Regions from separate parts of the Homo sapiens genome. Here region 1 is linked to region 2. Evidence: fine-mapped expression QTL. A gene starts in region 2. The other region holds a variant in brackets. All regions are shown on one strand. Distances are between the middles of the regions.

What was found.
Region 1: its variant is fine-mapped to the expression of SFXN2 in tibial nerve (GTEx, PIP above 0.99).

Annotation. Positions count from the first base shown.
Region 1 is chr10:102,730,384-102,743,301 of GRCh38, reverse strand. SFXN2 (sideroflexin 2) reads right to left here. Exons shown (of 12, transcript NM_178858.6): 7 at 11,519-11,579; 8 at 11,084-11,150; 9 at 10,394-10,443; 10 at 9,699-9,748; 11 at 7,393-7,440; 12 at 1-5,639. The coding sequence ends at 5,540. Among named protein-coding and RNA genes, the nearest start is that of WBP1L, 7.1 kb to the left of the region's middle. The variant T/A (reference allele first, on the strand shown) is at 3,827.
Region 2 is chr10:102,705,524-102,722,533 of GRCh38, reverse strand. It overlaps SFXN2 (sideroflexin 2), which reads right to left and starts at 7,898. Exons shown (of 12, transcript NM_178858.6): 1 at 7,853-7,898. ARL3 (ARF like GTPase 3) reads left to right here and starts at 8,137. Exons shown (of 6, transcript NM_004311.4): 1 at 8,137-8,261. The coding sequence starts at 8,259. RefSeq lists enhancers at 6,920-7,495, 7,496-8,072 and silencers at 7,858-8,007, 7,826-8,220, 8,288-8,337, 8,378-8,477.

The DNA.
Region 1 (12,918 bases), 23 kb before region 2:
AATTGCTCTGAAATCCATCATCCATTGCTTCAATCCATGTTCTTCTAGCTAAATACAAATGGCTTCCCTGCTGCCCTGCAAGTTGACAATTCTTCCTCTCAAATTTCCGCCACACACTACAACCATACCACATTAAACCAAATATTACTATATCATGGCCTCTTCTTTTAAATACTTCATCTACCTACAGAATAGAGAGTCCAAACTTCCCAACACGGTCCTCTCTGTGACTTCGTCCCTGTCTACTTCTCTTTATCTCACCTCTCACCACTACATTTTCCCACACATTCCACTCACACTGACCATTGAAGAGATGCCCAGTAACTTCATTTACATATTACAGATACAGTTCCCTGCTTACAAACTCCTAGCCCCATCTCCTTGCTGCTTCTTCTGGATTCTTGTAACACTTATATCTGCGTGCCTGGTTTGCAGTTTTTTGTACAGCATACCAGGTCTTTCTTCTTCTTCTTTTAAAGCCTATAATATCCTGTACAAGGCTCAACCAGAGCTTGATCAATGTTGGTAAAATAGCCAGGTGTGGTGGCTCATGCTTATAATCCTAGCCCTTTGGGAGGCTGAGGCAGGTAGATCCCTTGAGCTCAGGAGTTTGAAACCAGCCTGGGCAACATGGAGAGAACCCTGTCTCTACAAAAATAAAAAAACTAAATTAGCCAAATTAGCCAAGCATGGTGGTGCACACTTGTAGTCCCAGCTACTTGGGAGGCTGAGGTGGGACAATCACCAGAGCTAGGGAGATTGAAGCTGCAATGAGCCTTGATTGTGCCACTGTACTCCAGCCTGGGCAACAGAGTGAGACCCTGTCTCAAAAAAAAAAAAAGGCCAGGTGCGGTGGCTCCTGCCTGTAATCCCAGCACTTTGGGAGGCCGAGGTGGGCGGATCACATGGTCAGGAGTTCGAGCCTGGCCAACATTGTGAAACCCAATCTCTACTAAAAATACAAAAAATTAGCCAGGCGTGGTGGTGCATGCCTGTAGTCCCAGCTACTCAGGAGGCTAAAGCAGAAGAATCGCTTGAACCTGGGAGGCAGAGGTTGCAGTGAGCCAAGACTGTGCCACTGCACTCCACCCTAGGTGACAGAGTGAGACTCTGTCTCAAAAAAAAAAGAAAAAAAAAAGTTGGTAAAATAAATGGACAAAGGAAGACCCATGGCAAATAACACAGTTGACTTTAGCAGTCAATTTCCTCTCAAAAACCTGTCAAAGTGTTTTACAGCCTGGCCCAGTCTAGCCCACATCTGAGCCCAGAGGAAGTTGTTCTTGGCTTAAGTGTTGGAAAAATGGGAAACAGGTAAGAGTTAAGTCAGTCTTCCCTCAGCTTAAGAAAGTCCATAGTTCTGCCTTTATCTTGATCCTGCTTTTCCAAGTACTATAAAAAGTGACACGTATTTTTGCCAATCTCTCGTTTCTTAGAAATTTATCCATTCCACAAGTCAAGCTCCTTAGAGGAGAAGTAAAAATTGAGTACTAGGGAAGGACCAAATTATTTTCATGGCACAAGGTCTCTAATTCCTGGCCTCAAAAAGTTGTAAGTCTTCCACATAAAGGCTAGGTTTCATCATCACTAAGAAACCCCAGGTGGGATGTAGTGGCTCACGCCTGTAATCCCAACACTTTGGGAGGCCAAGGCATGAGGATTGCTTGAGGTCAGGGGTTCAAGACCAACCTGGGAAACATAGTGAGGCCCTCTGTCTACAAAAAATTTAAAAATTAGCTGGGCATGGTGGCATGTACCTGTAGTCAGGAAACCTTTAGGATTCTGGTTCTAGCCAGGATTGAGGAAAAGACCTTGGATCAAAAGGAAGCTTCTATACCTCTTCTTCTTCCCTTCCTCCTCCTCTCCCGAGCAATGGAACCTTTTACCCATGCTATTCTAGCCGAACTCAGGAAAAAGAAGCTACTCGGGAGGCTAAGGCAGGAGGATCACTTGAGTCCAGGAGGCTGAGGAAGCAATGAGTCATGATCATACCATTGCACTCCAGCCTGGGCAAGAAAGTGATACCCTCTTTCTCTCAATAAATAAGAAACCCCAATTCAGTTTGGCAAACACAGGGGATTTTGCCCCAACTTCCCTTTCTCCTTTTACCTGAAAGCTCAAGCTGAGCTATTGGATAGGACAGTCTGGATTAGCACTTCCCACACCAAGGCCTTTTAGTAACCTTAACTGCCTCTTATTCAACATCCCACAGCAGCCAACTCAAAGAAGAGAGATGTTACAAAATGAGACTGAGATGCAGTTTGAGTGACCACTTTTTAGAATGTCCCTGAACATTATAGCCACCACATACCTTCCAGACATTTCCAAAAGAGCAGTTGTCTATAAGAGAACAGGAAATCCAAGAGGCTTGAGGAGCTGAGAAGGAAGGGGAAACATTGTATGTTCTGAAAGAACATCAGTCAGGAGTTGTTTCCAAGCTCTACTGGCTCTGGTAATGTTTCCCTTTTCCTATTTGCTTTTGGAAATAAAGCCAGGTCTCCTGTCCTAAAGAAGCTAGCTCAAAGACAGACTTTTCTGTTCAGACACCAGCTAAAATCAAATTGCATATGCTACAACATGGATGAACCTTGAAAACATTATCCTAAGGAAAGAAACCAGACACAGAGGGCCACATACTGCATTACTCCACTTACATGAAATGTTCAGAATACGCAAATCTCTAAAGACAGGAAGTGAATTGTGAGGCGCTGGCAGGTAGGGAGAATGTGGAGTGACTGCCAATGGGTATGGGGTTTCTTTTGGGGCTAAGAAAAATGTTCTGAGACCAGATGCAGTGGCTCATGTGTGTAATTCCAACACTTTGGAAGGCTGAGGGAGGAGGATCACTTGAGGCCATGAGTTCGAGACCAGCCTGGGGCAACATAGTGAGACCTCATCAAAAAAATCAAATTAGCCTGTGGTCCCAGCTACCCCAGAGGCTGAGGCAGGAGGATTACTTGAGCTCAGGAGGTTGAGGCTGCAATGAGCAGTGATTGCACTACTGCACTCCAACCAGGGTAACAGAGTGAGATCCTGTCTCAAAATAATTCTGGAATTAGTGGTGATGCTTGTACAACTTTGTGACTACATTAAAAACCACTGAATTGTACACTTTAAAAGGACTAAGTTTATGGTATGTGAGTTATATTTTAACTTTTTTAAACGGGGAGAAAAATCAAGTTGCAGTGAATTCCTTGGCCTCGGGGAGGAGGCCCTTTCCCCTTAGAGCAGTGCTCCTCCACGTATGGTGCCAAGACCAACAGAATCAGCATCACCGGGCAATGACTAGAAATGCACGTTCTCAGGCTCCAGCCCAGAGTGACAGAATCTGGCAATGGATCCTGCAATCTGTGCTTTAACAAGCCTGCCAGCTAATTCTGATGTGTTTTCTTTTTTTTTTTTGAGACGGAGTCGCCCAGGTTGGAGTGCAGTGGCGCAATCTTGGCTCACCACAACCTCCACCTCCCAGGTTCAAGTGATTCTCCAGTCTCAGCCCCCCGAGTAGCTGGGATTACAGGTGTATGCCACCACACCCAGCAAATTTTTTGTATTTTTAGTAGAGATCGGGTTTCACCATGTTGATCAGGCTGGTCTCGAACTCCTGACCTCAGGTGATCCACCTGCCTCGGCCTCCCAAAGTGTGGGGATTACAGGCATGAGCCACTGCGCCCGGTTGATGCATGTGCTTAAGAACCACTGCTCCAGGGCAGGGGAAACTTTTTGTGTCAAGGATCAGACAGTAAATATTTTAGGCTTTGTATGCCACATAGGTAGGGTCTCTGTCATTCCTGTTGTTCCCTTTTACAACTCTTTAAAAATGTAAAAACAT[T/A]CTTAGCTTCCAATTGCACAAAAACAGGTGGCAGGTGGATTTGGCCCCTTGAGCCATAGCTTGCCAACTCTTGCTCTAGGGCAACACAGCTCCCATTCTGGGAGATCTGGAGCTTCCTGTGGAGACAGGTGGATTTCCCCTTTAATGAGGGAAATAAACAACAGCCTCCAGGCATCAGACAAGTTCCCCTTATATAGTAGTTGTGATACCTTCTGACATGCCAAGGCCAAAGTAAGGCCAGATCCTGCTTTCCATTCAGGCTTCATTAACTTAGTTTACAGTTTGTGTGTATGTGTGCCTGTGTGCTCTTTCAACAAATTTATTCAATTCACAGTGATATCTGTTGGACAGAGTCAGCAATCCTACCAGACAAAACTCATACACACATTGATTCCAGATGAGAAACAACAGTCCCCCAAGGAGCTTGAGAAATCACCTAGGGCAGCCAAGCTGGGGAAGGGAAGTGGCTGTGCATTGCTGTGTGTCCTTTAAGGCTCTTTGGTCCTGGTTGATTTCCTCTTAGAAGGTTCCAAATAAAACTTCCCTTTCCTATTCAGTACACACCAGTCTTTCTTTGGTGTTTAACCTAATGGGCTGAGGAAGGGAGGCAGCCAGGAAATTATACCCATTAAAGTGTGTGGTTAATGCCTATATATATCATTTTTACTCACAGTTAGTGGACTTATCTTTTAAAACAGAGGTATGTGGCAGTGGGGTAAGAGAACTTCCCTTATTATAGAGAAGATTCCAAGAATAGGTTCAGACATGATTTGAAGAACCATGTAACTCTGCTGCCTTGCACGGTCCCCTTTTTAGCACTAATAACTCCTAAGTGTCTGATAATTTCAAGGTTAGCAGCACTCCCAAAGAAGCTGTCCGGGCTGGGTGTGGTGGCTCATGCCTGTAATCCCAGCAATTTCAGAGGCTGAGGCGGGCGGATCACCTGAGGTCAGGAGTTCGAGACCAGTCTGGCCAGCATGGTGAAACCCCGTCTCCACTAAAATACAAAAATTAGCCAGGCGTGGTGGCAGGTGCCCTGTAATCCCAGCTACTTGAGAGGCTGAGGCAGGAGAATCGCTTGAATCCAGGAGGCAGAGTTTGCAGTGAGCCGAGATCGCGCCACTGCATTCCAGCCTGGGCGACAGAGCAAGACTCCATCTTGAAAAAAAAAAAAAAGAAGCTGCCTGACCAGGGGGCAACGAGGAGGAGGATGTGGAAGGGTGATGAGCCCCAAGGGGACAGAGTCCTTTCCCCCTTCTTTTTCCTGAGTTCAGCTAGAATTACATGGGTAAAAGTTTCCATTGCTTGGGAGAGGAGGAAGCGAAGAAGAAAGAGGTATAGAAGCTTCCTTTTGATCCAAGGTCTTTTCCTCAACCCTGGCTGGAACCAGAATCCTAAAGGTTTCCTAACTTTTCCAAATGATTTGCTTGGATGTCTCCTCCCTGAGAGGGCCTCAGCTTCTGGTCTCCAGGGGACAGGGGTTGAGGAAGCAGCTAGAAGACATTGGCCTTTGCTACCCTTTTTCACTTTTTTCCCCTGAGGTCCAATCAACCAGTACCAGGGTGTAAGTATGAGGCATTCATTGTCCCACCCCCCAATCTACCCTGGCCTTCAGGCCTTGTTGGCAAAGGGGAAGGAGGACACAAGTGTGCACGTAGCTAAGGAGGAGCTGGTGAATATGGGAATAGACTGGTCCTTGCTGAAGTGGGGCATTTAGAGACCCTTATTGAAGTAGACATAAGGCTCAAGTTCTCCATACTTGGCCTTGATAGTGTCTTGGAGCTTCGGTTCCAGATAGGAAACTGGCAATTCACTGAAAAGAGAGAAGTGGATTATGAGCATGCCACCAGGAACAAGCAGTAAGTTACCCTCAGATGAATATCACCTCCAAGAAGCCCTCCTGATTTTTCCATCTAGGATTATTATTGGCCTCTGTATACCACAATGTTGCTTTACCATTACGCAGGCCTGACTTCATTCTCCTTGGGCTATGGTTCTTCGTTTCAACTTCCATCTTCTCCACAAGATTACAAACACAGTGCTTGGGACACAAGAGATGTCTAGCAGATGACCATGGAAGTAGTATTGAACTAGAGTACTGAGGAAGGGGAGACTGGAATTGTCTGGGTATATATTCAAGCTACACTTGTCTCCTGGGGTCAGTCACCCTCCACCCCCTAGTCTGATGTATCCCTTCCCTTTTCCATCATCCCTTCTCCCTGCTTCCTCCTTCTTGGACACACAAAGGAAATAGAGGGGTTTCGGTTGTCAGCCCTCTGCCTGTCCCTTTATTTATTTATTTATTTATTTACTTATTTATTGAGATGGAGTTTCACTCTTGTTGCCCAGGCTGGAGTGCAGTGGTGCAATCTCGGCTCACCGCAACCTCCACTTCCCAGGTTCAAGCAATTCTCCTGCTTCAGCTTCCCAAGTAGCTGGGATTACAGGCATGCACCACCACACCCAGATAATTTTGTATTTTTAGTAGAGACGGGGTTTCTCCATGTTGGTCAGGCTGGTCTTGAACTCTCGACCTCAGGTGATCTGCCCACCTCGGCCTCCCAAAGTGCTGGGGTTACAGGCGTGAGCCACCACGACCAGCCCCCTTATTTAATGTTAACGACCAACGGGGAACGGTGGCTCACGCCTGTAATCCCAATACTTTGGGAGGCTGAGGCGGGCAGATCACCTGAGGTCAGGATTTCAAGACCAACCATGGCCAACATGGTGAAACCCCATCTCTACTAAAAATACAAAATGAGGCCAGGCGCGGTGGCTCACGCCTGTAGTGCCAGCACTTTGGGAGGCTGAGGCGGGCGGATCACAAGGTGAGGAGATTGAGACCATCCTGGCCAACATGGTGAAACCCCGTCTCTACTAAAAATACAAAAATTAGCTGTGCGTGGTGGCACGTGCCTATAATCCCAGCTACTCGTGAGGCTGAGGCAGGAGAATCGTTCAGGGAGTCGGAGGTTGCAGTGAGCCGAGACTGCACCTCTGCACCCCAGCCTGGCGACGGAGTGAAACTCCATCTCAAAAAAAAAAAAAAAAATGAGCTGGGCATGGTGGCAGGCACCTGTAATCCCAGCTACTCTGGAGGCTGAGGCAGGAGAATCACTTGAACTGGGAGGCGGAGGCTGTGGTGAGCCGAGATCGTGCCACTGCACTCCAGCCTAGACAACAAGAGTGAAACTCCATCTCAAAAAAAAGAAAAAAAAAAAAGTTAAAAACCAGATCCAGCCAGAGGAGAGCTTCCTAATAACCCAGCTGGCAGGAAGAGAAAGTCTGTTGTTGCTCCCCCACCTTCTCTTCAAGGCAGTGCTTGCTCCACTGGGAGGGAGCAACCTTATTCCTGTCCCTGGCTTCTCCTGCCCCTCGCAGATCTGTTTTCGTTTGTCAGAATTCACCAGGGTTAAGAGGCCCAGCCTTTAGGCTGATGGACACTTGTCCTCAGACAGGTGCTGCCCTTCCTGCCCCTTCCCTGTCTCCTTCTGGACAGCAGGCAGATCAGGGAGCGCGCTGGCAGCATGGTCAATTAAACCAAGTAAGGAATGAACAGCAGATACCATTTCTGTGGGAAAAGCCCACACGCCACTGGCACCATGAAGATGAGGCTGCAAGAAAGGAGAAACCAAAGCATCAGGGGACATCTCCCCACAGGCCCGTCCATCCCCCATCCCCAAGGGAAAGGAGCAATGCCCAGGCACCTGGCCTGCCTTCCCAGCTGGCACCATATCCTCTCCCTCCAACCCTCCTCCTGTTCCCGCAGTGCGAGGATACTCATTCTGGCAGGGGGATAAAACCAGTACCCTCCTGACCCCCATCACTCATTCCCACCCTTACTGCATTGTTCAAGCAGAGGAAGAAGACAATGAAGTAAACAGGGACTGTGAGCAGCAGGCCTAAGGAGCACAGGCACTGCTGGCATCGAGCGAAAGGAGCGACGAGGAGGGAGAGGAGAAACTTGGAGGGGGAGGAGCAACATGGAGGGGGAAGAGCGACATGGAGGGGAGGAGCATCATGGAGGGAGAGGAGGGACATGGAGGGGGAGGAGCGACATGGAGGGACAGGAGCAACTTGGAGGAACAGCATGGAGGGTGGGGAGCGACTTGGAGAGGGAAGAATGACTTGGAGGTTGAGGAGCAACTTGGATGGGGAGGAGCGACTTGAAGGGGGAGGAGTGACTTGGAGGGAAGGAACTACTTGGAGTAGGAAGAACTACTTGGACAGGGAGGAGCAACATGGAGAGGGAGAAGGACATGGAGGGGAGGAGCAACATGGAGAGGGAGGAAGGACACAGAGGGGAGGAGGGATGAGGAGGGAGAGGAGCAACTTGGAGGGGGAGGATTGACTTGTATCGGGAGGAGTGACCAGGATGGGGAGGGGCACTTTGGAGTGGGGGAGGGGCACTATGGAGGGGGAGGAGTGAGTCTGTGGATTCTGAGACCTGCTTCTTTATTGGTTGAACACCTGGGCTGTCAGAGCACAGTGAAAGGCAGTTTCTCCAGCTTCACTGTGCATATAACTTCAGGAGCTTATTAAAATGCCAGGTGCCAACTGAGGGGGTCTGGGGAAGGACTTCAGAGTCTTTACTTCTAACAAGTTATCAGAGGATGCCAACGATGCTGGCATGGACCAGGGTTTGGGAGGCAAGGTCTTACAGGACGCGGGACTCTGACAGACCTGGGTTGGTATCCCAGTTTTACCACTTACTAGCTGTGCCATCTTGGACAAGTTACCTCAGAGACACAGAGGGAGGACAACCTACTTTTTAGGGCTACTGCAGACCACTTTGCAGTGCCTACTTTGCAGGGTTACTGTGAGGATTCAATGAGATATGTATGTAAAGCACCCAGCCCATGGTAACTACTCAATTAGCAGAAGTTGGTATAGCATAATGTTAGACTGTTGATCAAATCTCAGCTCCAGCAGTTACCAGCTATATACCCTTGGGCAAGTTTCTTACTCTGTCTAAGTCTCAGTTTCTTCATTTGTAAAAGGAGATGATAATAATATGTAGATTTCTAAGGCTGGGAGAATTAAGTGAAATTATAGATATGAAACACTGGGTTCAGTGGGGACACAGAGAAAATATACAGTCAGTGTTAGCTGTTAGTGATGCTGTCATTAGTCTCGTGGCCCTGAAATGCATGGTGAACGCTAGGACATCTCCAGTTAATGGCAGATACCTAAGAACCCTGACGTGACTGGTGGCATTTCCCTCCTGTGTGAGTCTGGGACACATGACAGTCCCAGCCAAAGCTATGTCTCCTCGTTCTTATCTCTTCTGTAAAACTGCTCCAGACAGCCAGGCGCAGTGGCTCATGCCTATAATCCCAGCAATTTGGGAGGCCGAGGCAGGTGGATCACTTGAGGTCAGGAGTTCGAGACCAGCCTGGCCAACATGATGAAATACAAAAATTAGCAAGGCATCATGGTGCGTGCCTGTAATCCCAGCTACTCAGGAGGCTGAGGCAGGAGCATTGCTTGAACCTGGGAGGTGGAGGTTGCAGCGAGCTGAGGCTGCGCCATTGCACTCCAGACTGGGCGACAGAGCGAGACTCCATCTCAAAAAAAAAAAAGCAAAAAACAAAAAAATTGCTCCAGACTTAAGGTCAAAGGAGAGACCCTGGGATGGGAGGGCACCTCAGCACTGGACTTCCTACATGGACACGTGCATAAAGTCTAGCCAGCCTGATGCCCTCACAAAAGATGGGGTGAGAGCTTTCCAGATGGACCACAGGTATTCTGAGCTTGACCACTTTTAAAGTCAGGTAAAGGAGTACACGTTCTCCAACACGGGCTAGACAAGACGACACATCTTGAGTGCTCCAGCCACGCAGAACCCAAATCATCAAAATATGATACTTACAAGCACCCGCTCAGCATGACCTGCAATGGGGCGTGCAGGACCTTGACTTTCTGTATAAAAACAAATAAAAGACAGATCCACATGGTACTTCTATGCCTTAAGGTGAACCCCAACCCTGCTCTGCCATGGATCAGCCAGCTAGAAAAGCCCACAGGTGGCTGGGCGCAGTGGCTCATGCCTGTAATCCCAGCACTTTGGGAGACCGAGATGGGCAGATCACAAGGTCAGGAGATCGAGACCATCCTGGCTAACACAGTGAAAACCCGTCTCTACTAAAAATACAAAAAAAATAGCTGGGCGTGGTGGCAGGCACCTGTAGTCCCAGCTGCTCGGGAGGCTGAGGCAGGAGAATGGCATGAACCCAGGAAGCGGAGCTTGCAGTGAGCCAAGATCGCGCCACTGCACTCCAGCCTGGGCGACAGAGCGAGACTCCATCTCAAAAGAAAAAAGAAAAACCCACAGGCAAGGACCCCCTGGCCCTTAAAGAAGGCCTTGTTCTCTGCAGACCAGGTAAGGAAACTGGCCATGGTATATCTAAACAGGAGGTCAGTGGAGATTGGTGTGGGCTTGAGTGAGATGACAGCATGGTAGCTAAAGGGAAGGATGGGTGGGGGAGGGCAGGTCAGGTATCCCTAGGGACAGATGTGGCTGGACGCACTCTGGGCAGGGAAAATGCCAAAGCAAACCCTACATACCTGCATGAAGTGCAATTTCTCAAGCCTTTCCATGATGACTGGCAGCAAGACTGGAAGAGACCAGGGAGAAGCTGAGGGGAGGGCTGGGAGGCTCTCCCCAGGACTCCTTCTGAAGTCAGACCAGGAACCAAGTGGTTCCCTCTCCTTCAGCAGAAGCTCCAGAAAATACTTACCACTAGGCAGAACAGAAGAGCAAGTAGGCATGACCACCCCCAAACTTTCTCCCCAAAGTCCTGGCAGAACAGTGCTTCCCAAGCTTCTCAACCTGCACACTTGCAATATCAGGAAAACATGTGCTGCTAGGTCCAAAGCTACCTTCTCAAAACTCAAAAATGTATTTGTACGTTCGTGCAAACAAATTTTGCAATACACCCACTGCTGGAAGCAAACCAAAGCAGGGAATTTATTTTCTCTATCACTCTCCCTAGCACCCCACACTGTGTCTAACATTAAACACAAGGGCTTGACAAGTATTAATAAAATGAAAATAACTTTCTACCCCAAACCTTGGATGAACTGATGTTCTAGGAACTAGTGTGGTTCTTCTAGGCTTACAGCAATCAAGCAAAGCAGTTTGAGAAGCATGGCTGTAGAAGGTGGGCCCCACCTCCCACCCAAAAGCTGAGTGTGGCTGAGACCTCCACCCTGTGTCACAGGCTTCCCCAGGATGGAAGGGCTTCCCCATCTTACTCATCCCAGGAGCTGACATGGTGATCCGAGAAATAACTACTTGGGTGATGCCTATGGCCGCAGCTCTCTGAGGGCAGAAAATAGTAAGTTGTCAGAAATGATGTATCCAGTGTACATGTGCTGCACCAGGGGGCTGGGTCAGCATCATGGCCAAGTCTGAGATGGTAAAGGGGAAGGGAAGGACCCTCCAGTTGCTGAGTGACCTCACTTTATCCCCTCCCACCTAGCCAGGTTTTTATGGACCAGAAATGATGGAGAAAAGAGAGAAGGGGCCTGTTCTGAACAGAGAAACATGGGGAAAATTTGATAGGGAGTGAGGATGGAGCCAGAAAAGGCTTCTCAATCCTATATTGGTGCCTACTCTGACCACTAAGGAGGGGACAGGGTATGAGAGGGAATTCCCTCCTCCCACCCCAAAGGGAGGCCTCTGCTCACCCGGGAATGACCAATCTCATTTTCATTCCTGTCCTTCACGCAGATTCCCTTTATGAGCTCCCTAAACACAGACAGGAGTTAATGGACTTGGGAAAGGGGTGATGGAAGCCTGCCAGCCACATGACATGCCAGGGGACCAAGGCCAGGCCACTTAAGCTCCAGGAAGCCACCTCCTGTAGCCTGGGCCTTTGACCTTCCTTCTGCACTCCAATAAGCAGTATCTTAGGAGTGATCTAGGGCAGTGGCTGAGAGCGGTGGCCCTGGGCCCGGACTGTCTGGGTTGAGTCCTGAAACTGCAGGGGATGTGTGTGACCTTGAGCACAGTCTTTAACCCTCCCAAAGCCTCAGTTTTGCTTATCTGCAAAATGGGGATCATCCTGGCACCCACTTTACAGGACCTGGTAAGGATTAAATGAGATAATGGCTATGAAATACTTGGTCCAGCACCTGACACACAGTGTGATCACTCCACAAACAGTAGCTACTCTAGCTATTCCTTTTTTTTTTTTTTTTTTTTTTGAGACAATCGCACTCTGTCACCCAGGCTGGAGTGTAGTGGCATGATCTTGGCTCACTGCAACCTCCATCTCCTGGGTTCAAGCGATTCTCCTGCCTCAACCTCCCCAGTAGCTAGAATTACAGGCATGCGCCACCATGCCCGGCTAATTTTTGTTTTTGTTTTTTGGTTTTTTTTTTGTGATGGAGTCTCACTCTGTCACCCAGGCTGGAGTGCAGTGGTGCGATCTTGGCTCACTACAAGCTCCGCCTCCCGGGTTCACAACATTCTCCTGCCTCAGCCTCCCAAGTTGCCGGGACTACAGGCACCCGCCACCATACCTGGCTAATTTTTTGTATTTTTTAGTAGAGACGGGGTTTCACCGTGTTAGCCAGGATGGTCTCGATCTCCTGACCTCGTGATCCGCCCACCTCAGCCTCCCAAAGTGCTGGGATTACAGGCGTGAGCTACCACGCCTGGCCCTAATTTTTGTATTTTTAGTAGAGATGGGGTTTTGCCATGTTGGCCAGGCTGGTCTCAAACTCCTGGCCTCAGGTGATCCTCCTGCCTCAGCATCCCAAAGTGCTGGGATTACAGGCGTGAGCCACCGCACCCAGCCCACCCCAGCTGTTCTTCTCAGGCCAGTTCTTGACAGCACTCAACTCAAGCCCCGGTAGGTGGCAGGGACTCATTCTCCTGTTAGGAAAGGGCCACTGGATGGGGAAGGAAAGATGAATGGAGCAGCATGTGTGCACAACTATTCTGGTAGTGCTTCCTCTACAAAGACTAGTGTGAACATTTTCCATTTGTTGGTAGTCCCAAGAAAATGTGGCTTGTAGATATTGATGATGATGACAATGGTAGAAATAACAGTGAACACTTATGTAGCATCTCTTATGTTCCA
Region 2 (17,010 bases):
AAACAAATAAAAATCTTTATTTCTCTTATTCTGAACTGTTAACAGTTAACAAACAGATACGTTTGTTTAAAACAATAGTAGCAACAATGTATTTGGTGATTACAGTTTATGGATCAGAGAAATCCATGACAGCAGTAATATCAAGGACAGGAGGGGAGAATTGGGAGGACTCCATTCTAAGGTACTTGCACACTCCATGCAGTGGTATAGTGTTATTTGAAAGTGGATTTGGATTAGTCATAAATGTACATTGCAGACTCCTGGGCAACCACTAAAAAGGTTTTCAAAAGAAGTATAATTGATATGCTAAGAGAGGAGAGAAAATGGAGTCATACAAAAAAAGCTGACGCTTTTAAATGTTTGCCTGAAAGCTTCAGGGAGTCATTGAAAGACTTTAAGAAGAAGAGTGACAAGATCAGATATGTAGTTTACTAAGAACAAACTGGGTAGTCATGAGAATAAACAGGATGTGGATGGACCTCACGGGATGCAGGGAGACCAGCTGGACGAGAACCCCAGTAATCCAGGCAAGAAGAGGTAGGGCTCAAATGAACCCACGTGCACTCAGAGGAGAGACCAACAGGAGAGAATCTTTCAAAGAAGCGGAATGTTAAGGTCTGCTAAGCAATAGGTATAAGAGGAACATTTTATCAGTCAAGGTTCAACCAGAGAAGCAGAATCAGTAGATTACAGACAGACAGACAGGTAGATACCAAAACATAACATGGGGCAACATGGAGTTCCTCTAACTCCTGAGCTCAAGCAATCTGCCTGCCTTGGCCTCCCAAAGTGCCAGGATTACAGGTGTGTGCCACTGCACCTGGCTATGACACACACATATACATATTTTATATATTTCTAAAATATATTTGTATACTATAATATATATTTTCTAAATATATAAATTATATAACTATATAAATATATAATTTTTTAAATTTATAGATATAGCAACATATATTTATAATATATAAATTTATATATACATTTATTTATATAGACATGAATTACGTTTAAATATAACATATAAAAATAATATATAAACATAAATAATTCATATAGCTATATAAAATCATATATAAATATATAACTTTATATGTTATAAATATATGTTGATCTATCTATATAGATTTTATAATTTTTTCTTCTTTTTTTAGGCAGGGTCTCAGCTGGTTGCCCAGGGTAGAGTGGAGTGGTGCAATCATAGCTCACTGTAATCTCAAACTCCTGGGCTCAAGGAATCCTCCCATCTCATCCTCCCTAAGTGCTGGGATTACAGGCATGCACCACTCCTGGCCTAAATATATATAATGCTGACGTAATATAATATTGATAAAATATAGAAATTGATTTATCACAAGGAATTAGCGAATTGGCTCACATAACTGTGGCTGTTGGCTAGGCAATCCTGAAGTCAGCAGGGCAGGCGGCCAGCAACAGACCATCCCAGGGGAGAGGGAGCAACGCGGGTAATGGCTCAGAGTCCAGAACCTCAGAGGGGGTTCAGGGGTGTTCTAGCCCTCCTTTAAAGGGCTTCCACCTGATTAGGTCAGGCCACCCAGGATAATCTCCCTTTTGATTAACTTAAAGCCAAACAATTGAGGAATTTAATTAGGTCTGCAAAATCCCCTCACAGCAGCACCTAGATTACTGTTTGTCTGAAGAGCTGGAAGATGGTGTGTGTGTGCTCCTGGGTAGCCACTATAACTGGAATATACCAGAGAGGGAATCCCGGGAGTCTTGCTTAGCTTAGCCAAGTTGACACATGACAAATATCCAGAGTGATACCTAGGGTTTCTGACTTGGGCGATAGGTGCTAACAGGGAGAGCACAGAAAAATTGGCTTTGAGGGAGAAAATATTAATAGTAAGCTTGATTTCTGCATGTTAAGTTTCAAATACCATGGGATTTTTTTTTTTTTTTGAGACAGGGTCTTGCTCTGTTGCCCAGGTGGGAGTACAGTGGTATGATCATGGCTCACTACTCCAGCCTCCACCTCCCAGGCTCAAACGATCCTCTGACCTTAGCCTCTCAAGTAGCTGGGACCACAGGCATGTGCCAACATGCCCGGCTAGTTTTTGTATTTTTTGTAGAGACAGGGTCTCCCTATGTTGCTAGGCTGGTCTCAACTCCTGAGCTCAAGGGATCTACCTGCCTCAGCCTCCCAAAGTGCTGGGATTACAGGAGTGAGCTACCAGCCCCGGTCCTGCCATGGGTTTTTTTTTTTTTTTTTTTTTTTTTTGAGAGGGAGTCTTGCTCTGTCACCCAGACTGGAGTGCAGTGGTGCGATCTCGGCTCACTGCAACGTCCACCTCCTGGGTTCAAGCAATTCTCCTGCCTCAGCCTCCTGAGTAGCTGGGATTACAGGTGCGTGCCACCACACCCAGCTAATTGTTTGTATTTTTAGTAGAGACGCGGTTTCACCGTGTTAGCCAGGATGGTCTCGATCTCCTGACCTCGTGACCCATTACCCGCGTCGGCCTCCCCAAGTGTTGGGATTACAGGCGTGAGCCACCAAGCCCGGCCGGGATTTTCTTAAATGCAATAGGCCTCTTCCTGTCTCAGGTCCTTTCCAAACACAATACTCAAAAGCTAGTCTTTCCTCTCTTCACTAAATAGTACCTATTTGTCCTTTTATTTTTTTGTACAAATAATTTTCAGATTTACTTCTATAGCTTCTACTACTAGGTCATTTTGTTTTTTTCTTGGAAATAGCACCTTAGCTAAGTTAAATAATTCACCTGTGAAGTGAGGTGGTATGTTCATTTTGCTCACGACTGTCACCCCAGTGCCTAGCACAATATTCAAGTATTTGCTGAATAAGAAGTTCATCAGCCTGTGGGTATTCAGGCTTGAAAGGAAACAGAGGTCAGAGCTAGAAGGAAAAAACTGAGTCAGCAGCATCGAGGTGATTTACGATAAAGTTTTCCAGTGAGAACACACAGAATGGGAAGAGGAGAGAGCTGAGGACAAACCCTGAAAAATCAGGACATTTAAGAAGCCAAGGCCGGGCACAGTGGCTCACACCTGTAATCCCAGCACTTTGGGAGGCCGAGGCGGGTGGATCACCTGAGGTCAGGGGTTTGAGACCAGGCTGGCCAAGATGGTGAAACCCCATCTCTAATAAAAAAAAAAAATACAAAAATTAGCTGGGCGTGGTGGCAGGCACCTATCATCCTAGCTATTCAGGAGGCTGAGGCACAAGAATTGATTGAACCCAGGAGGCGGAGGTTGCAGTGAGCCGAGATTGTGCCACTGTACTCCAGCCTGGGCAACAGAGTGAGACTCTGTCTCAAAAAAAAAGAAGCTGAGGCCGGGCACGGTGGCTCATGCCTGTAACCCCAGTGCTTTGGAAGGCTGAGGCGGGCGGATCACGAGGTCAGGAGTTTGAGACCAGCCTGGCTAACATGGTGAAACCCTGTCTCTACTAAAAATACAAAAAATTAGCCGGGCGTGGTGGCAGGCGCCTGTAATCCCAGCTACTTGGGAGGCTGAGGCAGGAGAATCACTTGAACCCGGGAGGTGAAGGTTGCAGCGAGCCGAGATGGCGCCACTGCACTCCATCTTGGCAACATAGCAAGACCCTGTCTCAAAAAAAAAAAAAAAAAAAAAAAAGAAGCCGAGAAAAGGAAGCCCCCAAAGATGGGAAGAACCACCAGAAAGAAGAGAGAAAGGAGGTGGAGACAGGCACAGGCCTGTAATCCCAGCACTTTGGGAGGCCAGGAGTTCAAGTTCAAGAAAGGAGGCAGAAGGGACAGTGTTGGGGAAGGAAGAGCAGTGGTCAATTTTTAGATTTTTCGTTAAGGCGGAAGAGACATCAGGAAGCTGATATGCTGGAGGTACGCCATTTCCTAAGAGGAAAGACCAGGAACAAGAGGAGAGGCTCAATATGGAGTATCCACAGCGCCCTGGCCTGGCCCCGATGCTTCTCTGAAGCGGCAATCTCCAGAGAAGTCAGAAGGCAGACAGAAAGAGTCCACTGCCAAAACAGACTTCCCCTCTCCCTGCCACCTGGCCTCCTGCAGGCTGCTTCAAAGACCAAAGGCATTTATCTCAGTCCCAGCTGAAGCAAGAGTGGGAGGAGGGGAAAGAGTTCACTTTCCCATGCTCTACATGAACCTAAAAGGAGTCAGCTTGGCTGGCTGAACACACGCTGCCTTGGCTTACAGAGCCCCAGGCTCATACATGCTGGAGACAGCCTGACTGAGCAAAATGCTATGCCTCCCCCTCAGCACACACATACACACAGAGCCAGACCTTCTCTGACATCTCTGTTCACCTTAACACAACATTGCAAAGTCCTCTGCTTCTCAGAATGGAGGGACTATCATCAAGGGGTAATCTAAACATTTGCTAATTATGCAAGAGCCTTTGCCTTCTTAATTGAAGTCAGGATAGAAACTGCAGAGTCCCTGTCTTAAATAAAACATAAAGCCAAAACAAAAACAAAACAAAAAAAACACTAAACGATCTGTCTGGAACATTTCCCCCCACACACCCACTGTCCCCCAATGGGCACTCTTCCCCGACTCCTTCAGGACAAACTCAAATCCTTCTGTGATATATACTCCTACAGCATCCTGTCCTTTGCAGCATGCTGGGCGTTTGTGATTGTCACCTTCTTGTCATTGACTGTGATTTGTGTAAAGTCTGCCTCCCCTGACAGACTGTAAGGCTCACAAGCATCGGGATCATGTCTGTGATGTTTACTGCTACATGTTTCACATGCCCTCGAAGAATATTTACTGCTTACCTGAAATGCATTCCAACTTCTTCTTGGGTCTCTTGGCATCAAGGATGTCACCTCTTTTAAGTCAAACTTAGAACCTGCCTAGGTTACAGAATTAAGAGCACGCTTTCTTTCATGAAGTTGCAAAACTGTCTACCTTGCCTGTACTAAGTCATACTGGTCTCTAAATTTTCTTCTACAGTTACTGTCCCTCCTCCCACACAAGCCACATCTAGTCTTCCCTAAAAAGGTCATCATCATGTCCAGGGTAGCCCCACTTCTGTATGGTCCCACTACTAGGAACAAAGTAGGAGTAAAAATCAGACCAGTGATTTAATGATATCTCCCTCCTAGGATTAGAGAATGTCACAGCTTGAGGCCGGGCGCAGTGGCTCACGCCTGTAATCCCAGCAATTTAGGAGGCCGAGGCGGACGGATCACGAGGTCAGATCGAGACCATCCTGGCTAACCCTGTGAAACTCTGTCTCTACTAAAAATACAAAAAATTAGCCAGGCGTGGTGGCACGCACCTGTAATCCTAGCTACTCAGGAAGCTGAGGAAGGAGGATCGCTTGAACCCGGGAGGCGGAGGTTGTAGTGAGCCAAGATCGCACCACTGCACTCCAGTCTGGGTGACAGAGCGAGACTCCGTCTCCACAAAAAAAAAAAAAAAAAAAAAAGAGAGAGAGAATGTCATAGCCTGAAGACATGTGATCTAAGATCTCAGTTTACAGAAGAGGAAACTGAAGCCTAGAAAGGTGCACATGGATTGGGCCACCACAGTGGGCATTTTTGATACACTTGGCCCTGCACTAAGCGCTTGCAGCAGATATAAACACGAACAATCAACAGATCCAGTCCTCAAAGATTGGACAACAGCTAAGGCCTTACTTCCCCAAGGTCCTCTATCCACTATAGCCTACTTGCCAACTCCGAGGCCTGGCACGGTGGCTCACACCTGTAATCCCAACACTTTGAGAGCCCAAAGCAGAGAGATCACCTGAGGTTGAGAGTTCAAGACCAGCCTGACCAACATGGAGAAACCCCCGTCTCTACTAAAAATAAAAAATTAGCCAGGCGTGGTGGTGCATACCTGTAATCCCAGCTACTTGGGAGGCTAAGGCAGGAGAATCGTTTGAACCCGAGAGGTGGAGGTTGTGATGAGCCGAGATCGCACCGTTGCACTCCAGCCTGGGCAATAAGAGTGAAACTCCATCTCAAAAAAAAAAAAAAAAAAAAAAAGGAAAGAAAGAGAGGGAAACAAAGAGAAAAAAAAAGTAATAGACTACTGCCACCTCTGACGTAATGCTCATCCTTCCCAGAAAGAGCAGATTTTCTCTGGCAAATGGTATCAGAGATCAGAAAACAAGCTTCCAAATTCCTTCTGAGGTATCCTCTTACAAGCAGAAGTGCACAAGATTACTGTTTGTAGCCCCAGGTAGGGAGAAAAACGAAACATCATCGCTGGTACTCACATCAGAGGAAGATCAAGGTAGCCAAAGACCCCAGAAGGTCAGACACAAAGACCACTGAGACAGGCAAGGATTAAGGTCAAGGCTGCCTAGAGCAAGCTGGAAAATGAGGGTAATAATTACAAGAGCAGGCCCAGGTATAGGCTTATGGGTACTCGTCTGACTCCAAGGCAAGTGGGCTGTTAGGCACCAGACAACTTAGAAAGAGCAACCTCCCTTGCCTTTTTCACAAAAGGGCCAACAGTCTGGAGATGAGTAGATTATAGGGGTTTGTGCTCCTGTATCACCTCCATTCATCACCTCCTTAGTCAAGGCTCTGAACTGCTTTTTCTCTCCAAGGATCTGAAGCAGGTATGCAAGCAGCAGATGTTGATTTTTGTTTTCATTTTTTTTTTTTTTTTTGAGGCAGGGTCTTGCTCTTTCACCCAGGCTGGAGTACAGTGATGTGATAATAGCTCCTGGGCTCAAGCAATCCTCCAGCCTCAACCTCCCGAGTAGCTAGGACTACAAGTGCGCCACGGAACCTGGCTAATTAAAAAAAATTTTTTTTTGTAGAGGCAGGGTCCTACTGTGTTGCCCGGGCTGGTCTCCAACTCCTGGGCTCAAGCCTTCCTCCCCTTCCACCTCTCAAAGTGCTGGGATTATAGGCATGAGCCACTGCGCCTGGCCGCAATTACCAATTTCTAGGGGTTGTGAAAATGAAATTTGGTATGAAATGTATTTCATTAGGAAGGATGTAATTTCCATACGGGCTGATTTTGTCCACTGCTGTGTCTCCAGCGTCTAGAACAGGGCCTAGCACGTTTGTGTAAACTCTTCTTATAGTCCTCTGCATCGGGAAAGGGATGGGAGGTAGCACTTCCCAACCCACCCCAGTGTCCCACTTGCTCTTCCTTGGCTAAAAATGCAGGCTCATTTTTGCCTCCTCCAGGACTACAGATGGTACGCGGTCCTGTCCAAAGCAGCTTAGCAAAACCGGCCAGAGGCTGGGCACAGTGGCTCACCACTTTGGAACACCTGTAGTCTCAGCACTTTGGGAGGCCTAGGCGGGCGGATGGCTTGACCCCAGGAGTTCGAGCCCAGCCTGGGCAACATGGCGAAACTCCGTCTCTACAAAAACAAAATACAAAAAATTATCCAGGCGTGGTGGCGCCCGCCTGCAATCCCAGCTACTCGAGAGTCTGAGGCGGGAGAATCGCTTAAGCCTGTGAGGCAAAGGCTGCAGTGAGCCGAGATCGCGCCACCGCACTCCGGCCCGGGCGACAGAGCGACACCCTGTGTCAAAACAAAAACCGGGCCGATCCCCAAAACGCCTTTCACCTGTGCTTTCAGCTCACCTCAGGGCTCAGGGCCAGCCCCCAGGCTGCTTCTTGCCCTCCGACAGACGGCCTCCCCCCATCGGTACTCCCCCATCCCGGACAGCTCGTAACGCCCCAGCCGCTCGGCCTGGCACTCCTAGGCAATGGGGGTCAGAGCAGAGGGGCCCATCTGCAGCCCCAGGGCGCACTTCGCGCCACGTGGCTTCTGCAGGTGGAAGTCCAGCCCGCGCTGCAGCCCCGCCTGGGCAGTCAGGACAGCAATCTCAGCACCCACCCGAGATGTGGGGATTGGAGGTAGACAGGGCGAGCGCCATTGTCCCAAGGCCCCTTACCTGGTCCCGGGACAAATGCCACCAGTTACAGCCCGCCTTGAAAACTGGCCCGGGTGAGAGGAGGACCTGGGCTGGGGAACTGCCCCCACGCCCGCCCCACGCCCCTCCTTTTCGACCAATCCCAGGCCGGGAGGCTCCCGCCAGCCACGTGGGCAGGCTTTCTCCACTCCCTGGTCCAGGCGAGCCGGCGGCGGCCTCTGCAGCTCCCGTAGCCCGCCCACTGCGTGGGCGGGCGCCTTAGCGCACTTGCGCACTCTGGGGAAAGCGGAGCTGCACCCCGCCCCGTATTGCTGCTCAGCTCCTCAGCTGTGCGTGCGAGGGACGTCGGGGGCGGCGCCGCAGCAGTTGCCCCTGGTAACGGGGGAGGCAGCAGGAGGAGGAGGAGGAGGAGGGACTCGGCGGGAGGATGGTGAGTGTGGGGGCCTGGGCCCCCTTGGAGCCGGCCGGTTATCCCCCTCCCGTCCCCAGGCCCAGGGCGGAGCACTGCGCTTAAAGCCAAGGAGGGAATGGGACGTCGCTCAGCCTGCTATCTGGGTTGTGGACTGATTTCGGGGGTCGGCGGGGAGACCCGAGGGTGGGCCCTGGAGGGAGGCCTGGGCCTGGAGAGGAAGGCGGGGCTTGCAGCGGGTCCGAGGCTTGGGGAAGGGGCTGGCAGAGTGCGCGGCTGGCCGGGTGCGGAGCCCGGGCTCCATCATTACTCTGGGGACAGGGGTGAGGGCGGATCCCAGGAACTGCGGAGAGCAGCTTTCGCTAGCAGGCTTAGACTTCCCGGGCAATCGGTCTCGCGGCTTTGCAGTAAAGTGGGGTTCGTCTGGAGCCCGGCCAGAAGCGGAGAGAAGGCCGGCCCCATTGGCTCTGAGGTCGCCCTGGCGGTAGCAGGGGAGATGGTAGCCTAGCTCTCCTCCTTCTCGCGCTGTGCGGGCCCCTGGGGGGTAGGGAAGTAAGTCCCACGACACAAAGGGGTGCCGCTTGGAAGGGATGCCTGGTGGATTTTACGCCGTCTTGGTGTCTGCGTGGCGGGTGCGCTTCCTCAGTCCCGAATTATTTAGTTATTTGCTGAGAGTTTTGCAGGATCTGATTGTTGGTGATGACCGATTTTTCATTCAATACATAATCCATGTTGATGAAGACATATTAGCTGCTCCGTCTCTAGAATTTCCTTCGAAACCTTTTGCAGTCTCCTCTTGCGTGTGACCATACCAGGACCAAAAGATCTTAATCCTAGCTTGAGTTCTCCAAACTGAAAAGAACGAGAAGTTAAAAATGGAGATCGAACTTCAATCCGGGGCAAGGCTTTTCTCTGTCAGTCCCAATTAAAGCTTTCCCAAATTCTAAATTATGGTTGTGACAGATCTGACCGTTGACACTCTGTTTCTTGTTAATGTCTGTACAGTTAGTTGGAGGGAGTTAAAATGGAATTGAGTAATTTTAGAGCTATCAAAGAAAAATTGATTTTGAACACTTAAAGCAGGTTAGTTGGCTGCAAAGAGCCTGTCATCAAACTTATAGTCACTGCTCCAACTCTCTTCCTAGTTCCTTTCTTGACTTTTAGAAATGTTGAGCCATTTCTGTTGATTTAAGAAGTAAAAAAAAAAACAAAAAAACTAGATGCCCAGGAAAAAAAAAAATAGATGTATGTTTGGTCAGATTATCCAGTGAGTAGATTTAGAAAGGAAAAAAAAAACTCAATTGATTTTACATTGTCAGATTGTTAAAGAAGTAGGGTTATTTGATCTGAAGTTGCCAATCACATTTCACACTTGCTACACTTGCAGTTTTTTTTTAACCTCAGGCTAAACAGATTTTTACAACTGTTTCTTTTTCTTAATCATTTATACGTGAGCTGTCCTTTTAAAGTTAAAGTTTTTCTCAACAAATGAGTACAAACATAAATATTTACCCAGAAAATAGCTAGAATTGGAATGAAAAGGGCATGCCGAACCAACAGAGATTGAGATTCATCATTATGGATGAGAAGTGCATGAGAGTTGGCTAACTTTTCCCAGTTTGTTGATCAATTAAGTGTACTGTGTAATCCATGATTGTTTAATTTATAATTACAGGCCACAGTAAATTAACCACTGCCCATGTTTCCAGGTGCAAATTGGCACAGTATACAACAAATTTACAGTGTATATACAACACTGTTGTATACAACTGTTGTGTTCAATGATGAAAACAGATTTTGTTTTTCTTTTTTCCTTTTTCCTAAGATGAACAATAAGAAATTAAGACAAATTATTCCGGATTCTTTATCTGGTTTCCCAAAAACATTTTTTTTCTATCTCCACAAGCGTGAGCTGTTCTTAAAACTTGAAGTGAAACACTGAATTTAGTCAGTCGTGTGACTTAAGTGTATCCCATCTGGTATCCCATGAGCCCCCATGGTTAACTGTACAACTGAAGCGTGAACCCCAAGGTTTTTTTGGTTTTTGTTTTAAACTTCAGCTGTGACAAATACATATTTTTTTTCAAATTTGGGTAACTGTGGCAAAAACCCAAATATGGGTTTCTCTGAACATTTAGAGTCAGCTATTTTACCCCTGCTTTACAGTGCCAGGTTCTTGATGAATTACTAAAATACTAAAATGACAGTAATTTTAGCACGTAACTAACCACTTATATTTAACATATGATTCCTTCATTCAGTAATTATTTATGGAGCACTTTCTACATATATGGAGCTTGTGGTCGTTCTCAAGCATGTTCAACATTTGAAGATTGTTCCCAACAGTTACTTATGTTTTCTGGTTAGAAAATGGCCCGTGAAAAATTATTTTAAAAAAATAAACAAAACACGAGGGTAGTCTTTTCAGTGGCTGTTATGTGTCATGCTTTACATACATGACCTCATTTCATCCTCATAGCATCATCTCTTGAGATGTAAGTATTGTTCCTGTTTTCTTCTTTTTTTTTTCTTTTTTTGAGACGGAGTCTTGCTCTGTCACCCAGACTGGAGTGCAGTGGCGCGATCTCCGTTCACTGCAAGCTCCGCCTCCCGGGTTCACGCCATTCTCCTGCCTTAGCCTCCGCAGCAGATGGGACTATGGGCGCCCGCCACCACGCCCGGCTAATTTTGTGTGTGTGTGTTTTTAGTAGAGACGGGGTTTCACCATGTTAGCCAGGATGGTCTGTATCTCCTGACCTCGTGATCCGCCCGCCTCGGCCTCCCAAAGTGCCGGGATTACAGGCGTGAGCCACCGCGCCCGGCCTGTTCCTATTTTCTAGCTGAAACTGTGTGCAGTGTTATGTATATACATATATATATATAAAAACACACACACACATACATATATATACATATATATATACAGATACATATACATACATATATATATATATATACACACACACACACACACACACAGAAGCTGAATACAAGTCTGTGAAATTCTAAAGCCCATAACATTCATTTCATTAGGACTCTGGTGAAGTGGGAACCCACTCTTCCTGAGGAGATGCTCAGACTTTGTTCCTTAGGAAACATTGTTTGTATTTATTTAGGAGAGGGTGATGAGAAAGAAGACACAGTTTGGATTAAGTTCTCAATTTTGAGCTTTAAGCTGATAGGAGTTCAGTTGAAAGACGTAAAAACAAATGGAAGTCAGTTATATTTAAGCTAGTTATGGGGACCGTATGTACTTGACTGTTGGCTTCGTAATTTCAGAATTCAAATTTTAGCTGGTCCTCACAACCACATATATTTTCCATATACCAACGCATTCCTTCTCCCTCCACCACTCTGGTTTCTTTGAATGACCTAGTTTGTATTGTTTTAGGTCAGGGCACCATGCCTCTGCCAGTAGTTTAAGCTGATTTCGAGGCAGATAAAACGTCTGTAGTCCATAGCACATCTATTCATGATTTGACTGTAGAAAAGTTTGTTTAAATGTTTTGTGGTTGAGTCAGACCACTTCTGCCCACCAGGGTGTAGATAACTTGTATACACACATGCTGGTAACACACAATATACTTTTAACTGAAGTTCATGTTTCTTAAATTGTTTTATTTAATGTCACAGGAATATAAATCCTACATAGAGATCATGCCCGTTTTGCTCACTGTTGTACTTGGGGCACATTAAGGGTGTTTAATGATAATTGCGTGAATGGATATTTTGGCCAAAAAATGCACTTTAAAAATTAATGTCATTGTATTTATACTGCAAAACTCAGCCCTATGATAAATTTAACTTCTAATCGCTGTCTCCCTTCATTTGACAGTTAAAATAAAATATGGGCATATATGTATAGATGCACAGAATAGACTTATTCTGGTCTCTTTCATCCAGCCTCTTAAATCAGCTTACTTTGTACCTTTCAGGCAGAACCCTGATCTCTATAAATATCCTCTTCCCTATTTAGCAAACCCTGATAATCCTGTGATCCCATCCTCAGTAGTTGGATTAATATGATGCTGTATTATATTTGCACTTGTCTTCCCTAGACCATGCTTGAAATGCCATTTATCATTTTGCTGGAAGAAAACATTAGCTGAACTTTGCATTTCTCTGTAATTTCACTCAAAGGTGAAGTATCTGAAGTTATTATTTCCTAATAAGGAAAATTACTCATTAGAAATGTAGAAGCACTGTATTCTACACCATTAGGTTAATAAAGTTTATCTATAGTTAGAATTTTTTTTTTTTTTGAAACAGTCTAGCTCTGTGGCCCAGGCTGGAGTACACTGGTGTGATCTCGGCTCACTGCAACCTCCACCTCGCAGGTTCAAGCGATTCTCCTGCCTCAGCCTCCCAAGTAGCTGGGAATATAGGTGCCCACCACCATGCCTGGCCAATTTTTTGTATTTTTAGTAGAGGCAGGGTTTCACCATGTTGGCCAGGTTGGTCTCAAACTCCTGGCCTCAAATGATCCGCCAGCCTCAGCCTCCCGAAGTGCTGGGATTACAGGCATGAGCCACTGCACTCAGCCTTATAGTTAGAATGATTTCTTTTTCTTTCTTATCTGTGCTTTGCTCCTCTCCTTTTAAGGTGAATAAACATTATGTTTGTCTCTTTTTTTTTTTTTTTTTTTTTGAGACAGAGTCTTGCTCTGTCACCTAGCCCATAATGCAGTGGCCCGACCATAGTTCACTGCAGCCTCAAACTCTTGGGCTCAAGCCATCCTTCTGTCTCAGCCTCCTGAGTAGCTGGAACCGCAGGTGCACACCACCACACCTGGATAATTTTTTTTTTTTTTTTTTGGTAGGGATATGTGTCTCGTGTTTGTTGCCCAGGCTGATCTTGAATTCCTGGCCTTGAGCTATCCTCCTGCCTCAGCCTCCCAAAGCACTGGTATTACAGGTGTGAACCACTGTGCCTGGCCTTGTTTTTCTCTTAATTCTTTAATATCAAATGTAATGAGTGTGGAGCAAGTCTCTGCCTGAAAAAAAAAACAGTATTTTTAGTAACTTCTTTAAAAGAGACACATGAGGAAAAACCCAAAACATTAATTTTAAACTTTGAAAATATTTTATAGGCCGGGTGCAGTGGCTCACTCTTGTAATCCCAGCACTTTGGGAGGCCGTCACGGGCAGATTGCCTAAGGCCAGGAGTTTGAGACTAGCTTGGGCAACATAGTGAAACCCTGTCTCTACTAAAAATACACAAAATTAGCTGGGTGCGGTTGTACACATCTATAGTCCCAGCTACTCCGGAGGCTGAGGTGGAAGGATCACCTGAGCCTGGGAGGCTGAAGCTGTAGTGAACCATGATTTCACCACTGTACTCCAGCCTGGCATTAGGAGTGAGACCTTGTCTCAAAAAAAAAAAAAATATATATATATATATATATATAATATATGGTTTTATTTTTTGTTTTTGTTTTGAGATGGAGTTTCACTTTTGTTGTCCAGGCTGGAGTGCAGAGGCATGATCTTGGCTCACTGCAACCTCTACCTCCTGGGTTTAAGCAATTCTCCTGCCTCAGCTTCCCAAGTAGCTGGGATTACAGGCATGTGCCACCATACCCGGCTAATTTTGTATTTTTAGTAGATACGGGATTTCGCCATGTTGGCCAGGCTGGTCTCGAACTCCTGACCTCAAGTGATCCACCCACCTCGGCCTCCCAAAGTGCTGGAATTACAGGTGTGAGCCACCACACCCGGCCAAAAAAAATTTTTTTTAAAATAGGAAACAGATCTTCCTTCATAATTTCTGCACTAAGCAGAAAATGCATGAGAAGAACTTTGCCTGTGTCATTTAATGTACTAATTTGATAAATTCCAGATGTTTTATAATTTATTTTAAGAGGTAATGAGACCTCTTCTTTTCACTTACAATCAGGAACTCAGGATGAGTAGTAAAATGGGTTTTCCTCTTAGCCTTTTTATGTCACCAGTCCCCTAAGGATCTCAGAATTTTAATTTTTACTTTTCTGAAAGGTGATATTATAAATGAGTGATTGCAATATAGCTAATAGAAACCAGGGAGACTTCTTGTAAATATAGTTTTAAGAAGGAATGCTGTCAAAGTATTCAAGACCAGATGAGATAAAAACAGCAAAAAAAAAAATCTTGCCTTTGGGTGGATCGCTTGAGCTTAGGAGTTCAAGACCAGCCTGGGCAACATGGCAAAACCCCATCTCTACAAAAAATACAAAACTTAGTGGGGCGTGGTGGTGTGAGCCGGTAGTCCCAGCTACTGGAGAGGCTGAGGTGGGAGGATCGCTTGAGCCCAGGGAGTCGAAGCTGCAGTTAGCCGTGTTCACGCCACTACATTCCAGCCTAGGCCACAGAGGAAGACCCTGTCCCCCCAAAAAAAAGAAAAAGGAAAAAAAAGTCTGGCCTTTTAAAAAGCCAGACTTCTGTTTGTTTCCAATCTATTCAATCTCTGTCCCCCAAATCTTTTGGCATAGAATTTGTCTAGCTTAGACTAAACCTTCCATCTTACTGCTGGAAAAAATTGAGGCATAGAAAGGTTAATGTGGTCCTTAGCAAGTCAGTACAGATACAGTACTAGAAGTGGTAAACAAAGAGTCTCTGAGGCAGAAAGGAATTCTTAATAATTATGCATATTTGCGTATGATTGTCCAAAGATGCAGTTGTTGAGAATTATTTCTCAGAAGTATCCTTTGATCTTAGTGAACAAACTGGTTTGAATTATTGCCTGGTACAATGTGAATAACAAATACAACCATTTTGCATAATTCTAAGACTCAGTTTGAAGGAATTTCTTCTTGGGCTGGGAGATTAAATTATATGCCCTTTAAACTCTGGGATTCTTTGACTCTTGTTCTAGCCATGTGTCGTTAGAACAAGATTATCAGCTATAGCACAGAACAAATAACTTTCCTATAAAGATGTTCTTATGTTCTTAACTAAAAATCAACATGGTTTATTTATTTTTTCTTTGTTTTCTTTTTCTTTTTTCTTTTTTTTTCTTTTTGAGACAGAGTCTCACTCTGTCACCCAGGCTGGAGTGCAGTGGTACAAATACAGCTTACTGCAATCTCGACCTCCCAGGCTCTAGCAATTCTCTCACCTCAGCTTCCTGAGTAGCTGGGACCACAGGCCTGCGCCACCATGCCTGGCTTATTTGTTTTTTATTTTTTGTAGGGACAGGGTCTCACTATGTTGCCAGGGCTGGTCTTGAACTCCTGGGCTCAAGCAGCCCTCCTGCCTTGGCCTCCCAAAGTGCTGGGATTATAGGCGTGAGCCACCATGCCCAGCAACATGCTTTATATTTCTATCCATAAAAAATAATAAATAATGGCCAGGAGAGGTGGCTCATGGCCTGTAATCCCAGCACTTTGGGAGGCCAAGGTGGGCTGATCGCTGGAGGCCAGGAGTTCAAGACCAGCCTGGCTAACATGGCGAAACCCCATCTCTACTAAAAATATAAAAATTAGCTAGGCATGGTGGCACATGCCTGTAATACCAGCTACTCTGGAGGCTGAGGCACAAGAATTGCTTGAACCCAGGAGACAGAGGTTGTAGTTGAGCCGAGATTGCACCACTGCACTCCAGCCTGGGTGACAGAGGGAAATATTAGATTAACAGTAAAAAATTCCTTGGTTAATTTTGGTGGGTTTTTGTTTTGTTTTGTTTTGTTTTGCTTCATGGATGCCTTTTATGATTTCTTAACTTCTCTGTTGTACCAAATTTTTCATCTAAAAAACACAGATTATCTATACCATGCACCTATCCTGTAGGGTCTTGTGAAAGATGATAGTAGAACATTTTGAATGAAGAAGTCTTGAAGATGTGCTGAAATAGATAAAATCTTTTTTTTTGAGACGGAGTCTTGCTCTGTCACCCAGGCTGGAGTGCAGTGTGCAATATCGGCTCACTGCAACCTCCGCCTCCCAGGTTCAAGCGATTCTCCTGCCTCAGCATTTCGAGTAGGTGGGACTACAAAGCGCCTGCCACCACGCCCGACTAATTTTTTATATTTTTTGTAGAGACAGGGTTTCACCGTGTTAGCCAGGATGGTCTCGATCTCCTGACCTCGTGATCCGCCCACCTTGGCCTCCCAAAGTGCTGGGATTACAGATGTGAGCCACCGTGCCCGGCGATAAAATCTTTTTTAAAAATTTTTTCCTTTTAATTTTTGTGGGTCCATGGTGTTATATATTTATAGGGTACATGAGATGTTTTGATACAGGCATGCAATGTGAAATGATGAAATAGATAAAATCATTAACAGGAAGCCCAACTATAATTTTATATAGCCTTTTTATATATTTTTGTATAACACCTTAAAATCGTGTGTTAACTTGGGTGTGTCATCCTATTTAATTCCACAAGTGTTATCTAGTGTCTGTTTGATAAGTGCCAGGCATTATGGGACAAGTATAGCCCTTACCACGAGAAACTTTAGTAAAGGAGAAAAATACAAACATCAGTTACCTAGTTTGATATGATGAATGTTCTGCTCTAAGTGTATGTAAAGGGCTTTAGGAACACAGATGGGGTAGAGTTCACACTCCCAGGAGATTTGGGGTGACTGCTAAGCTAGATTGATTGGAGGAGCAGAAATAAGCCCTGCTACTTATTAAGTTGCTGAATTTACTGTAGCACTTCTACCGAAACTTGGAAAGAGGAAGCAAATGGAATAAGTGGCATTAGAATGAAAAATAATAACATAAGCTCTCCATAACCAATAACTTTTTTCAAGGAGAAGTTATTCTCATATCCAGTTAATATCACAGTCAGTGCCC